Regions from separate parts of the Homo sapiens genome. Here region 1 is linked to region 2. Evidence: fine-mapped expression QTL. Tissue or cell type: whole blood. Region 2 holds a variant in brackets; the other region holds the start of a gene. All regions are shown on one strand. Distances are from middle to middle.

Evidence for each region. PIP is the estimated chance that this variant, and not a neighbour inherited with it, causes the effect.
Region 1: it holds the start of C2orf92, and the variant in region 2 is fine-mapped to the expression of C2orf92 in whole blood (INTERVAL, PIP above 0.99).

The regions. Positions count from the first base shown.
Region 1 is chr2:97,666,460-97,674,565 of GRCh38, reverse strand. C2orf92 (chromosome 2 open reading frame 92) reads right to left here and starts at 4,853. Exons shown (of 8, transcript NM_001351368.2): 1 at 4,732-4,853; 2 at 9-110. The coding sequence starts at 4,777.
Region 2 is chr2:97,950,488-97,958,593 of GRCh38, reverse strand. The region is part of intron 1 of TMEM131 (transmembrane protein 131); the gene reads left to right. Among named protein-coding and RNA genes, the nearest start is that of TMEM131, 41 kb to the left of the region's middle. RefSeq lists an enhancer at 680-759. The variant C/T (reference allele first, on the strand shown) is at 3,456.

The sequences.
Region 1 (8,106 bases), 280 kb after region 2:
ATACTTGCTTTTTTGTGTGTCTCTCTTTGTAATGGATCTGACTGCTGTTCTTGTTTCATCAAATGATGGGTCATACGGAACCTTGGAAAACACTTGGAGCACAATTTCATCTCCAGTGAAGCAAACAAAGGCATGTTAATATCAGCAATATTTTGCTAAGTACCTAAAGCAGACTATGAATACAATGAATGCATGACACAAACTCAATGGATATTGGACATCATGCTGTAAATGCCTTGTCTTTGGGAAGGAAACTCCAACTACCTAAATCATTTCCAGAACATTTTAATGGCATGAGACATTTGGGGCAGCAAACACCGCCCACTAAAGATATATGACCCCAAATCTCATGATACTCAGTGCCATAATTCTCCTTCTTCTTCCTCTTGTCATTCTGCCACACAAGCACTGGGGAGGCCCCCAATGATATCAGAGAAGCGGGCCTTTCCCGACCTCCTGCGCCAAAGCCACAGTGGCCTCCCCCAGATTGCTATGACAGAAGGAAAATAAACCACTCTTTGTTTAAGCCACTATACGTCAGGTTTTCAGGAAATTGCAGCCAGGTGCATTCTTAACCGGTACAGCAACTATGGCAACACACGGACTGCCCTCACCGGGATGATCTTGACCACTCAGTTTTATGACCCATTATTGTACAGAGGAACCAAGCCCACCCTCCTAAAGATCATAATGCTCCTGGAGACTGGCCTAGAGTAGAAGACTTCAGATCATTCACACAAGCTTTCACCCAGCCTTATCTCTGCACAGAAACAGTATGAGGTGCTGGGGGTTCAGAGAGGAAGGTGACCTGGTGTGTGGTGTGCCTCCCCGAGCCATCTAGATAGCGGGAGAGGCAGAAGTATATACAGATACAACCAGACATGACACAGCCACACAGAGCTACAAAGCAAGGGCCAGGGAAGACAGGAGGGGAAGAGCTCGGCCTGCTGGGGAAGAAGTGGGCCCTGCTGGTAAGGGTGGGTTCTGGATTCAGTTGACCACAGTATTTATTGAGACCCAAGGTCACTCCTGTTCACCGACATTCGATGTCTCTGTCAACTTCCTTCACCAACAATCTGGCGCTCATGATCTCACTCCAGCCCTGGTAGGCCAGTGTGTGACATGCAAGACACCTGGAAACAGCATCTAGGAAACACTAGCTCATGAGCTACAAGCATCATGAAAAGCCCTTGAAGCAGTCATTGAAGGGGTGCTGCAGACCAGCCATAGCCCACACCAAGATCACACATGACTCACACACTCCACCCCACGCTTCGTGCCACTGAAGAAGGATGTGGAGCAAGGAGCCCAACCCCAGCACTTCCTGGGATGTGACTGCCTGGGACCCGACAGACACAAAGGGGAAAGCTGTCCTCAGAGAGTTTTGAAGCTTGTGTAAAAATGTTCTATATGAAAATTGTACCCACAAAAACAGGGGTAGGAGCCATGGGGGCAGAAACAAAGCAGAATAGATTCTATAAGCTCGGAAATCTCTTTGTTTATAAAGCTGTTGCTAATTCACAAGGGTTACATTTTTGAAATATATTAAGTTCTCCTTCCCTTTTAAGTTCTCAGGTTTCTGGCTTCCCTGGGAAGAAGCAGTTTTACTTTCCCTTCCAGGCTTTCCTTGCTAAGTCACAGAAAACAGTCCTCACAAAGCCCACTCATCCTGCATTCTCAGTGCATTTCCAGGGCTGTTGGTCCTCGGTGGTTTCCACTCGCTTGATGTAACAGGAGCTCACCACAGAGACACCAGAAAATGAACCATCGGGGTCACCAGGACAATGAGGAGCTGCTCTCACCACCTGTCCTTGATGACCATGCTGACCTACGAGTCCCTGGAAATGCTGCCCAGAGGGAACTGCAGAGTTGAGCCGTGGCCTCCAGTGCCAAGGCCCACCTGGTGTGAGCTGGGCTGGTCAGTGGACTCTTGAGGGGTGATGGGAGCTTCCCAAACCCCCAACCAGACTCCCATCTTCAGATGCAATCACTCCCCTCCTACACATATGGGGCCGAATTCAGAGACACTGGGGTCACCTGCAAGGCCGAGAACAAGGCTTCTGCCTCCTAGACAGCAGGTGCTGAGGGCACAGCTAGGGGGACTGCGAGTGCTACCTGCATCTGCTCATGCATCCCCTCCTGGTCACCTGCCAGGCAGTTGTCTATGCAGACTGCCCGAGGCCTCTGTGATGGCTCCCGTGGGGAGGAGCAAGCCCAGCGCTCCTGACACGGACAGCTGCCGGAACGGAATAGAGGCCCATCGGGTGTCGAGAGATCTGCTCCCTTGCAAGCAGGAATGAACAGGCATCGCTCTGTGATCCAAATGCCTCCTAACCCGGGGGGAAGCATCAGCGCCACTCTCCCAGTTGCTCCTTCTCACACCTAAGGTGACCCTCAACCTTCACTCCTGATGCACAGCCCAGGCACCCTCAGGAGAGACTTCACTGGCCTTTGGACAGCTTCCTTCAGCAGACAGCTGTGGTTCAGAACCCTTTTCTCCGTCTCAGCTCTCTGCTAAAGACTTCCCTGGGCCTTAGTTTTTCTCACATGTTCAGTGGAAGGTTCAGAGTGGAGACCAATGAGTCTCAGCCTAGTGTCCCCTGGAGGGTTAGAAAACTACAAATGTGAAGGTCTATCCCCACACCCCAAAATCTGATGTGGGGTGTGTGTGGAATGTCTCAATTGTTAAAAAGAGGATTGCCCCAGGGGTTTTCATGCTCAGTTAGGGCTGAGAACCCCTGGAGGAGGTTCAGCTCGGCTTTGGGGCCTCAGAGCAGAAACTGGCGAGGCAGGTGTGTCACAGCTAGTGTGAGGTGGCATCTGACGCCGCAGTCCCACATGGCCCTGCTCTGCTCCACTGATGCTCAGTAGGGTCCTTTTGAGGTGTTTATCATCTGTTTTGCTTAATTTCCTGAGACTGTGACACGTAGACAGATTCTAGCCTCAAGGAAGAGCACCTGCCTTCCCTTCACAGCAGCGGGAACAGGTTACCTGGGAGACAATGAGGACCATGCACGCAACTCTTCAAATCCAGCCTGAGGTTCCACAGGGAGTGGGGTAACTCACCAAAGATTTTAGCCAAACCTTCATCAGGATTTTTTGAATTTGAGGAAAATTCAGGCCAGGTGCCGTGGCTCACGTCTTTAATCCCAGCACTCGGGGAGGCTGAGGTGGGAGGATCACTTGAGGTCAGGAGTTCGAGGCCAGCCTGGGAAACATAGGGAGACCCCCGACTCTACAAAAAATAAAAATTAATTACCTGGGCGTGGTGGTGTGCACCTGTGGTCCCAGCTACTCAGGAAGCTGAGGCAGGAGGATCCATTGAGGTCAGGAGTTCATGACCAGCCTGGCCAACATGATGAAATCCCATCTCTACTAAAAATTATATTTTAGTAATTACTAATTTACTAGTAACTTACTAATTTAGTAATTTATTAGTTTAGTAAATTAGCCAGGCGTGGTGGCACACGCCTGTAATCCCAGCAACTTGGGAGGCTGAGGCAGGATAATCACTTGAACCTGGGAAGCAGATGTTGCAGTGAGCCAAGATAGCGCCACTGCACTCCAGCCTGGGTGAGAGAGCGACACTCCATCTCAAAAAATTAAAAAATTAAAAATTAAATAAAATTAGATAGTGATGCTTCACAACTCTATGAGTATACTAAAAACCACTGAATTATATACTTTGTAAAGGGTAAATTTGGCCAGACATAGTGGTTCATGCCTGTAATTCCAGCACTTTGGGAGGCCAAGGTAGGAGGATCACTTGAGCCCAGGAGTTTGAGACCAGCCTGGGCAACATAGTGAGATCCCTATTTCTACAGAAATTTAAAAAATTAGCTGGGTGTGGTGGTACATGCCTGTGGTCCCAGCTACCTGGAAGGCTGAAGGGAGGATCCTTGGGCCTGGAATGTTGAGGCTGCAATTAGCTGTGATTATGCCACCGCACTCCAGCTCTGGGTGACAGAGGGAGAACCTATCTCAAAAATAATAACAATAAATAGAAAAATAAAATAAAGGGTGAATTTTATTATATATTATATCCTATAAAGTTATTACTAATTTTTTTTTTTTGAGACAGGATCCCACTCTGTTGCCCAAGCTTGAGTGCAGTGGTGTGATCACGGCTTACTGCAGCCTCGACTTTTTGGGCTCAAGTGATCATCCCACCTCAGCCTCCCTAGTAGCTGGGACCACACGCACGCATCACCATGCATGGCTAATTTTAAAATTTTTTATACAGACAGGCTCTCATGATGTTGCCTAGGCCTGTCACAAACTCCTGAGCTCAAGGAATCCTCCTGCCTTGGCCTCCTAAAGTGCTGGAGTTACAAGAGTGAGCCACTGTACCCGGCCTAACCCTGTTATTTTTTAAATAGTGCATATATATAGATAAAATCAGGAGGGTTAGTTAGCATATGGTGGTTCTTTATACTAATCTTTCTACTTTTGCATATGTTTGGAAATGCTTACAGTGAAAAGTTAAAATACGCATGTATGCCACCCTCCTATAGAGCTCTGAATTTTGAGAAAGCTTCAAAGTTAGGAAAATGTTTTCAGTTACTCCCTTCCCCCAAGTAATAAACCCTGAATGGCAGATTTGGGGAGGTATAGAAGGTAGAGTAGGTAAAGCATCTGTGTTCCCCACACTGTGGGAGGGAACGCCCTCCTCTGCCCCACTTAGGCTTGAAGTGAGGCCCATGTTTCTCTCCAGCTGCCACAGCAATATACCTTGGATCCAGCAGAGAACAAAGAAGAGGGCCATGGCTCTGCTCATCTTTGCCTTAGTCCATAAACCATCATGGAGAAGCCAGTCTTCTGATGGCCCTTCAGATTCAGCAGCTGTGGACTCCAGGGTACCACGGAACCTAACGGTCTATGAAGTCATACACGGAAGTGAGGTGGAGCCTGCTCAACCATGAGAAGGGGAAGGGCCTGTGTCTGTGGACAGTGACGGGGGCTATGCTGGTGGCCCTGAAGTGACTGCCTCTCTGCTCACTTCCCTCGGCTCCCTGGTGCCTTCCTCCATCCTGCATGTCCTGAGGGCAACAGGATATTAACCAGGACTCTGAAGTCACAAGTGATAAAACTTCAACTAAATTGGCTGAAGCGAATTGGAAGTAGCTAGAATAGCCAGAAAAATCCTATGATCAATCAAGACATCACAGCCGGGCGCAGAGGCTCACACCTGTAATCCCAGCACTTTGGAAGGCTGAGGCAGGCGGATCACCTGAGGTCAGGAGTTCCAGACCAGCCTGGCCAACATGGTGAAAGCCCGTCTCACTAACAAAGTGTTGCTGCTTATTATATTAGGTAAAATTATAACACCAAAAATAGCATAGACCAATTGATACGCCCATTTTGTTACTCACGTGTCACTATTTCCCTCTATTACATTTTATAAGTATTAAACTGTTTTCAAAGGAAAAATCTATTATAGTACCTTGTACTACACTTTTTTCTAGTTTTTTCTCCATGTTCATTTTGTAATGGGTCCCACAAATTATGTAGCCAGCCCTGCCCTTGAGCCTTCATGTTCTTACAGTGTCTGTTCCATGGCTGAGATGGCAGATATCTTTTAGGGGTAAAAACTTGCACAAAGAGTTATATAGGGCCGGGCACGGTGGCTCACACCTGTAATCCCAGCAATCTGGGAGGCCAAGGCAGGCAGATCACTTGGGGTCAGGAGTTCAAGACCAGCCTGACCAACATGGTGAAACCCCATCTCTACTAAAAATACAAAAATTAGCCAGGTGTGGTGGCGAGTACCCATAGTCCCAGCTACTTGGGAAGCTGAGGCAGGAGAATCACTTGCACCTGGGAGGTGGAAGCTGCAGTAAGCCAAGATCACACCACTACACTTCAGCCTGAGCAACCGGGCGAGACTCTGTCTCAAAAAAGAAAAAAGAAAATAATCTGCATAGAAGTGGACCCGCACAGTTCAACCCTGTGTTGTGTAGATGCTGACTGAATCGTCTCCCAGTTCTGGAGGCTGGAGGTCTGAGATCAAGACGTCAGCAGGGCTGGTTCTTTCTGAGGCTGTGAGGGAAGTCTCTGTTCCAGGACGTGGGCTCAGATGGCCATCTTCTCCTTGGGCTTGCAAGACATCTTCCCTCCATACACACCTGAGTCCACATTTCCTCTTCTAAGAACACAGGATCATATCGGATTAGGGCCTGCCCTAATGACTTCATTTTAACTTGATTTCCTCTGTAAAGACCCTATCTCCAAATACAGTCACATTCTGAGGTTCGGCGGGGTGGCTAGGACTTCAACATATGAAGAGAGGGTACCATGTAATCTGTAACAGCAGGTCATGGTAACCACAGAAATCTTATTTCTCTAAAATACCTTCCAAAACAAAAACAAAAACTAGAATAAAAAATAACAAAGAATATATAAAACAACACAAAACCCACACCCTCACCACAACCACAGGACAGAAAATGTCCAAATTCCAAATGACTGGTAAATAGAAAAATAAATGCTAACCCGGGCTCCATCTCTTTTGCTTCTGCTGCTGGCCTTTGCAAAGAGGAAACCTGGAGGTTGAAGAGGGTCTAAAATCTCCATCCTGAGTTTGCAAATGCTGAAAGCGTAACCTGGTTGATCAGTACAAATACCCAGGGGTGGAAGTGCCCTGGGGACAGGAGATTGGTGAGACTCTCTCACCAATGGACTCTCTCTCCCTCTCTAAAAAAACAATGATGTTTATTCAGGAACGGGCATTACAATGGGAATAAGTATGGATGTGTTCCAGGAGGTAAAGGAAGACATTTTTTAAAGAAAAAATGAAAAGGGTTACATAGGCTTTTATAAGACAATCATCTTTGGGGCCAGGCACGGTGGCTCACACCTGTAATCCCAGCATTTTGGGAGGCCGAGGCAGGCAGATCACAAGGTCAGGAGATCGAGATCATCCTGGCTAACACGGTGAAACCCCATCTCTACTAAAAATACAAAAAATTAGCCAGGCGTGGTGGTGGGCGCCTGTAGTCCCAGCTACTCGGGAGGCTGAGGCAGGAGAATGGCATGAACCCGGGAGGCGGAGCTTGCAGTGAGCCGAGACCGCACCACTGCACTCCAGCCTGGGTGACAGAGTGAGACTCCATCTCAAAAAAAAAAAAAAAAAAAACTTAGCTGGGCATGGTGGCGGGAACCTGTGATCCCAGCTACTAGGGAGGCTGAGCCAGGAGAATTGCCTGAACCCGACAGGTGGAGGTTGCAGTGAGCCCAGATTGCGCCACTGCACTCCAGCCTGGGCAACAGAGAAAGATTGTCTCAAAAAAAAAAAAAATAAAAAAGAGACCTGAAGGTGCCTCATATACTGTTCAGAGACATTCATGCATATAACAGTCTACACTCGGTGTCTGCTTTCTCTTTGCTTTTACTTAGCAATGTGTCCTGATATGTTTCATATGAAATTATATAGCACTCTCTCATTATTTTTAATGGCTACACAGTGATCTATTTTATGAATGTATAAACACTAGATGCAAATGAATACATACCAATGACTTCATCTGCACAAAGTCCAGAAACAGGCAATACTAATATGTTTTCAAAATTCAGGATAGAGGTCACCTCGGAGGAGGAACAGGTCAGAGACCAAGGGGTAGGAGCTGACGGGGGGGCTGTTCATGCTATTAGGAAAACAGGAGCCTAGGAGAGACAGGGTGACACCATTTTAAAATCAACTGCTTTTTTTTTTTTTTTTTTTTTTGAGACAGAGTCTGGCTCTGTCACCCAGGCTGGAGTGCAATGGTGCGATCTGGGCTCACCGCAACCTCCATCTCCCGGGCTCAAGCCAACCTCCCACCTCAGCCTCTGGAGTAGCTGGCACTACAGGCGCACAACATCATGCCCGGCTAATTTTTGTATTTTTTGTAGAGACAGGGTTTTGCCATGTTGTCCAGGCTGGTCTCAAATTCCTGGGCTCAAGCAATCCACCCACTTCAGCCTCCACAAGTACTGGGATTACACGCATGAGCTACCGTGCCCATCTCAACCCCATCTTTTTTTTTTTTTTTTTTTTTGAGACGGAGTCTCACTCTGTCGCCCAGGCTGGTGGCGCGATCTCGGCTCACTGCAACCTCCGCCTCCTGG
Region 2 (8,106 bases):
GCAGACTCCCAGGCTCAGTCTCAGAGAATGCGATTCAGTATGTCTGAATGTAGGCCCAGAATCTACCTTTTGCTGAGTACCAAGGCATTTTAATGCAGTGGTCCAAGAACTCCACTTTGAGAACAGCTACTTTAATGATTGGTTTCAGGGTTTGTTACTGTTCTACTTCACCATGGGCTTTCTCTGTCTTCAGGAAGCTGCACCTGTTGGGAGATTATTCTAAGTATTGGAAGGTCGTTGAGAGACAGCCTGAGCTTGAGCTTTGTAGAGATGCAGACCTGATCTGTCCTCTCATCTCTGCCACTTGCCAGAAGTTTGACCTTGGGCAAATTACTGGAAAATGGGAAAAATAGCACACAACTTCCAGGGTTTGGTGTGGATGGTGGCTCAGCTTCTGCCCCCCTCTCCAGCCTCTTCTTAATTCTCTTCAATGCTCCCCAGATTTCAGACCTATGAAATGACTTATCTTCTTAAAGAACCATGATTTTTCATACCTCAAATTCCTTTGCACTGTTGTGCTTTCTGGTAGGAATGCCCTACCTTAACCTCCGTGTTCACCTGACTCTTCCTTCAGACGTAACCACTCCATAAACCCTTGTGGCTGAATTTGGTGGTTTCAGTGCACCTGGAGCACCCAGTACTTGATTTATTCGTCTGTGTCTCATCTCAGTGTATGAGTTCCTTGAGGAGGTCCAGCCTTAGCCGTTAGCACTGTGGTTATGTGCAGTAGCTTTTAGTTAAAAGTTATCTTTTTTTTTTTGGAATAATCAAGGCACCTACTATGACATTAGCTAATTGTATTTCAGAGGCCTAGTTTTGAAACTTTCATTATTTGTCAACATACTTGGCAGCCATGCCAGCAGGTATAAGCTTTCCCGCATGTTTTCAAAACAGGAAACTTTTGTCCTTTGGAATAGAAGTTCTAACACTTGAGCACATTTTTTTTTTTAAACTAATGTCTTGAAGAGGTAACTTGTTTCTTTTTTTAAGTTTAGGTTTGCCTCATCCCACAATGAGATCATGAAATAACCTTGCCTCTCCCCATCCTATGAGTTAGCTGGTACTTTCTGTTTATAGTCAGTGGTCAGCACCAAAATAGTATCCCTTGAATTTCAAAGCAAGCCAGGACAGACTAGAAGTACATTAAAATTTGTGCCTGGTTACTAGAGGGGGAAAAATAAAATATATAATGTTGTTTCATATGTATGTAGTCAAAAGTAAAACATGTGACTAAATAAATTTTAAAAATAATAAACTAAAATTCATAGTAATGCTAAAATTTAGTTTATGTAAATCATTAAGTACCAGGCACAACAAAATTTTTGTTTCTTTGCTTTTTGTTTTTATGTAAACATTATTGTGCTTAGAAGTTGCCAAATTTGGTGTCTTTCAATTTTTTTCCTTTTGGAATAAATGTGAACAAAGTCTCACATTTATTCAAACATTTAACTTCATTTTAAAAATTATTGCTGTAGGATAACTTTTTTTTTTTTTTTTGAGACGGAGTCTCACGCTGTCGCCCAGCCTGGAGTGCAGTGGCGCGATCTCGGCTTACTGCAACCTCCGCCTCCCGGGTTCAAGCTATTCTCCTGCCTCTGCCTCCTGAATAGCTGGGACTACAGGCACATGCCACCACACCGGCTAATTTTTGTATTTTTAGTACAGATGGGGTTTCACCATGTTGGCCAGGCTGGTCTCAAACTCCTGACCTCAGGTGATTGCCTGCCTCGGCCTCCCAAACTGCTGGGATTACAGCCGTGAGCCACCGTGCCCAGCCGCTGTTGGATAATTTTTTAACTTAAAATTTATGTCAGAGATGGAGAATAAACTATTAAAGACTAATAGAGAATAAAATTTTTGGACCATGTATTTACAAAAGTCATGTTTAGTAGTAAAAAAAAAATCTAGTTTACACTACTTAATGAAAAAAGAGAAATATTTTTAAATATATATAACACATTCTCACTTTGACATAAATTTTTCTCTTTTTACCCCAGTTACTACTATGCCCAAGAAAATTTTCCAAACTTTAAGTCTTTTTTTTCTTTTACCACTTTGGAGTATGACCTGTTATTTATAAACTTTCCTTGAAAAAAAATCGAAATTTTAATTTGTACCCTGAAACTTTGATCAAAGTAATAGGAGATCAATACCACATGAGTTAAAGAATGGAGTAAAAATATAATTGTTCTCTGTATAATCAAGAAATTATCTGATGGGCCATTGTAACTATTTCACATTTCCATTTAGCAAGTTGGTTCCGAGATACAAAAATATTTGGCACTTTTTGGCTTGTGGATGTCCAGTTGCTCTAGCACCATTTATTGAAAATTGAAAAAATTCCTCCAGTGGATTATTTTCATACTTGTATCAAAATCAATTGGGCATATTTGTGTGGCTCTCTTTCTGGGTCATCTGTTCTATTCCATTAGTCTGTGCATGTCATTTTGGCAATGTCACACTCTCTCAGGTACTCTATTACTAGAATAATACTACCCTTACTCTTACTCTACCTTAATATTGGGGAAAGTAATTTCTGTCACTTTTTCCTTATTTCTCAAGATTGTTTTGACTATTTTAGGGTGTGTACCTTTGCATGCAAATTTTAGAATAAGCTAGTTTGTGTGTATGAAATATGTTGCTGAGATATTGATAGGAATTGCATTAAACCTGTATATTAATTTGGGGAGAATTGACATTTTTCCTGTGTTAAGTACTCTATTATATATGTTCATTTATTTAGGTTTTCTTTTTTTAATCAGCATTTAAAATTTTTTAGTATATAGATCCTGTACATAGCTTTCACTTTCCGGAGTGATTGCAAGTATTTCACTTTCCAGAGTGATTGTAAATGGTGTTTTGTTTTTTATTTTTTGGTTTCCATATGTTCATTGTTAGTATATAGTGTCTTGTTTTTAACTTTTTGGTTTCCATATGTTCATTGTTAGTATATAGAAATGTTATTGATTTTTGTGTGTTAATCTTATATCCTGCTTCCTTGCTGAACTTACTTATTCTAGAAGTTTTAGATGATTTTCACAGGTTCCTTTGGATTTTCCATGTAAACGATCGTATCATTTGCCAATACGGACAATTTTATTCTTCCTTCCTGATCTGTATGCATTTTATTTTCCTTGCCTTATTGCAGTATCTTAGAATTTCTAGTACTGTGCTGAAAAAAAGTTGTGGATCACCTTTTCCCAGTCTTAGGGGAAAACCATTCTTTCACCATTAAGGTATAGATTTTTGCAGATGCTCTTTGTCAAGTAAAGGAAGTTCCAGTTTGTTCCTATTTTAGTGAGAATTTGTATCATGATGAGATGTTGGATTTTGTCAAATGATTTTTTTTGCATCAATTGACATGATCATATGATTTTGTTATTTATTAGTATATTTGATTCCATTAATTTTTTTTCAAATGTTGATTCAGTCTTGCATATTTCGGATAAATTCTG[C/T]TTATGGTGTGTAGTCCTTTTTCTATATTACTAGATTCAGTTTGCTGGTATTTGTTTGAGGGTTTTTGCATCTAACTTAATAAGGAATAGTGGTCTATAGTTTTAAAAAAATTTTGCAATGGTTTTGTCTAGCTTTGATGTCAAGAGTAATACACTAGCTTCATTAGATGAGTTGGGAAATGTTCTTTGTTTTTTTAAACTAGATTATGTAAAATTGGCCCTAATTCTTTTTAAAATGTTTGGTAAAATTTTCCAGTAAAGCCATTTTGGCCTGGGAATTTCTTTTTTGGAGATCTTTCTCTTTTTTAGTTTTTTTTTTTTTTTTTTTTTTTGAGATGGAGTTTCACTCTTGTCTCCCAGGCTGAAGTGCAATGCCGTGATCTCAGCTGACTGCAACCTCTGCCTCCCGGGTTCAAGCAATTCTCCTACCTCAGCCTCCTGAGTAGCTGGAACTACAGGCGCACGCCACCACGCCCAGCTAATTTTTTGTATTTTTAGTAGAGATGGGTTTTCACCATGTTGGTAAGGCTGGTCTCGAACTCCTGACCTCAGGTGATCCACCCGCCTTGGCCTCCCAAAGTGCTGGGATTACAGGCGTGAGCCACTGCGCCCGGCTGAGATCTTTCTCTTCACAAATTCACTGTCTTTAATGGTTATGGGTATATGCAGGCCATTTCCTTCATCTTGGTTGAGCTTTGGTAGTTTGTGGTTTTTGAGGAATTGGTCCGTATTTTCAAAGTTGTCAAATTTATGAGCATAAAGTTATTCATTCTATGCCCTTAGTAATCTTCTAATGGCTATAGTATGAAGCTATCCCTTGTTTCATTCCTGATGGTTGTGCTTTGTGTCTTCACCTTTTTGTCAGTCTTGCTAGAGCCTTTTCAGTTTTGATTATTTTTCAGAGAACCAGTATTTGATTTCATTGATTTTTGTTGTTGTTATTTTCCTGTTTTCAATTTCATTGGTTTCTGCTCTTGTTTTTATAATTTTCATTCTACTTGCTTTGAATTTATTTTGCTCTACTTTTTCTAGTTTCTTAAAGTAGGGGACAGAGATTATTAATGTGAGACCATTTCCTCTTTTCTAATATAAGCGTCACTGTGACATAAGTGTTTCGGTCAGAACTGTTTTTTGATATTTTGCGTTTTTATTTTTATTTACGTATATGTATTTTTTGCTGTTCTATTGCTTTTTGGCCAATGATTTGTTTAGACATGTGGTATACAGAAGTGTTTGAAGATTTTTGTGTTATGTTTCTGTTACTGATTTCTAGTCTGATTACATTGTGATTGGAAATCATATGAACTTAAGGTTCACCAGCATTATAGTTGGAAAATGGAATAATTTTAATTATTTTAAAATAGTTGGGGTTTGTTTTATGACCCAGGGTATGGTCTGTCCTGGTGCATGGTCCACGGTAGCTTAAAGGGAATGAATATTCTGTTGTAGGGTGGAGTGTTCTGGAGATGTCTTTTAGATCCTGTTGGTTGATTGTTGTTCAGTTCTTTTCTGTCTTTGCTAATTTTCTTTTAGTTCTACCAGTTGCTGACAGTGAAGTGTTGAAATCTCCACCTGTAATTTAGCTTTATCAGTTTTTGTTTTATTATTTTGCAACTCTGTTGTTTGGTGCATTTACTTTTAGGAGCAGTATTTTTTTATTGATGGATTGATTTTTAAAGTATCGTTATGTAATGTCTTTGTCTCTAGTAATTTTCTTTCCTCTGAAATCTACCTTATCTGTGTTAACATAGCCATACCTGTTTTTAAAAAATAATGTTAGCATGATATATCTTTTAACGACCTTTTATGTAAAACTGATGTGTTTGAAATAAGTTTTATTAGACGGTATGTAGTTGGGTTTTGTCTGACTTTCATTAAGGTCTCTTTGCCTTCTCTGTTTTTTAAAATGCACTTTTCTGAAGTTATTTCATTTCCATACATTGAGCACAGCAGATGTTAAGTTTGTTTTAACCGTCAGTATGATTTAAGAAACTTGATGGAAAAGGATGGTCTCTTATATTTACCCCTTCCTTTGCTCTTGTTTCCTTTATGAAATTCCAAGCTGCCTTTTATTATTTTCTTTCTTTTTGAAGATACTCCTTTAGACCTTCTTTAAGCGTAGGCTTGGTAGTGACAAAATTTTTAATTTGCTAATACCTTTATGTTACCTTCTTTTTTGAAGGATAGCTTTGCTGGTTATAGCATTCATAATTAACAGTTTTCTGTTGTTTTTTGTTTGTTTTGTTTTTGTTTTAATGAGACAGGGTTTCACTCTGTCACCCAGGTAGGAGTACAGTGAGTGGCACAATCATGGCTCACTGCAGCTTGACCTCCTGGGCTCAAGCAATCCTCCCACCTCAGCCTCCTGAGTAGCTGGAACTACATATGCACAGCACCATGCCCAGCTAATTTTTAAAATTTTTTTGTAGTGATGTAGTCTCACTGTGTTGCCCAGGCTGGTCTCGAGCTCCTGGGCTCAAGTGGCCCTCCCGCCTCGGCCTCCCAAAGTGCTGGGGTTGTAGGCATGAGCTACCGTGCTGGGCCCACACAATTGACAGTACTTATGTTTCAGTTCTTATATTTCAGCATTTAAGAAATATGCCACTCCTTTTGCACTTTCATGGTTTCAGACTGAACACCAATTCGAATTGGTGTTCTAGTATAGGTAATGTGTCATTTTTCTTGGTTCCTTTTAAGACTTTTTGTCTTTAGTTTTCAGAAGTTTGTGATGTGTCTTGATATGAATTTCTTTGGGTTTATCCTATCTGGAATTCGCTCTGTAAGTTTATGTCTTTCACCAAATTTGGGAAGTTTTCCTGTATTAATTTTTCAAATCCTCCCTCAGCGTCACATTTTTTCTCCTCTCCTAATGTTAGATTTTTCATTATTGCCCTGGAGGTCCCTGAGGCTTTGTTCATTTTTTTGTTTCAGCCTACTTTTTCTGCAGCTGTTCAGACTGAACAATTCTTTTTTTTTTTTTTGGAGATGGAGTCTCGCTCTGTCACCCAGGCTGGAGTGCAGTGGCGTGATCTTGGCTCACTGCACCCTCCGCCTCCCGGGTTCAAGCGATTCTCCTGCCTCAGTCTCCCAAGTAGCTGGGATTACAGGCGTGCGCCACCACACCTGGCTAATTTTTGTATTTTTAGTAGAGATGGGGTTTCACCATGTTGGTCAGGCTGGTCTTGAACTCCTGATCTCGTGATCTGCCCGCCTTGGCCTCCCATAATGCTGGGATTACAGGTGTGAGCCACTGCGCCTGGCCGAAATTGAACACTTCTTTAGATCTGTCTTCAAGTTCACTGATCCTGTATGGTATTAAAGGACTCTAAAAGGTGGAAAGCGGGTGGACTGGCTAGGGGACGTTAGGACTTGAAACACACTGGACTGGAGTAATTTCCATGCATGTGTGTTGGGGCGGTGTGGTGTGTATGCGTGTTTGTGTTTTTCCCCCGTGTATCCCAGACTGGAGTGGAGTACAACTTGAAATTGCCAACAGGCATAAACAGCAACAAAAACAAAAAACAGAAAACCCTGTCCTCTCTGGCCAAAGGATCAGGAAAAGGGAAGCCCAGGAGGGACTTGCCAATGAGACATTTTACCCAGTGGCAGTAGCAGGCCTAGTCTGCCCACAACAGTGGCCCAGCAGAGATAGAGTGAGAAGCTTACCAGTGAGGTGACTGTAGAACAAGCCACGGGAAATGCTCTTATTCACCCCTCAGGTCTGGCAGTCCCCTACCCACTGGCCTAATCATACTGTGCAGCCTGAGGATGTGCCTTCCACCCCGCTGTGTGGCACCAGAAGCTATCCAGTGGGAGCTCCAGCAGAGCTAGAAGAATGAAGCAGACACATATTACCATCACAGGGGCTTACAAAACTCAATTGTCTTTGGAACTACAGACTACAAAAGTAGACCAGAACCTACACACCAAACCTAACTGACTCCATGTTTTTCTAACTTCCTTAAATCCTTATTTTCACTTAAAGGGATTTTTTTTTTCCTGTTACAATATGTCTGGTTGTGCTGAATGTGAGTCTGCACCATCAGTGAACTGTTGACTTATTCTGCTCTCTGCTTCTGTTCTCTGGTTCTATCATTTTAACTTTAAAATGTGCAACTCTGGTAAATCCCTAAAATTAACAGTGCATGTGTTCTGTAGGAAATGAGTTCCTCTTGGTTTGTTGGCTATTTCCAGCTTATTGTACTTTCTTTACTGCAAATTTAGGCTATTAAAAGGATATTAGTACCTGGAAACTAAGCTCGTTTTCCTCCTTTTAATCCTTATTGGCTAAAATATTAGTCATCTTTGGTTACAAGTTGATGGCTGAGCAGTTTTTCATTCCACAGTGTTGAGAAACTAGACTGGAATCTTGAGCTGATAAACCAGAATGCAGATGTGGTAGATATTGGAGTCTTGGAATCAGCAGACCCATGCCCTAGTTCTGGCTCTGAACTCATTCAACTTCTACATGATTTCTGAGAAACCCGTAATTAAAAAAAAAAAATTATTTCTAAGTCAGTGATGTTAACTGCTCTCCCAGTCTGTTGCTGCCTGAAGGGGAATATCCGGTAAAGAGACCCTGTCCTGATGCTCTTTGCCACAGAGTGTAGAGCTGCTAGCAGGGGGAGAAGCAAGTGTAGGGACATTAGGA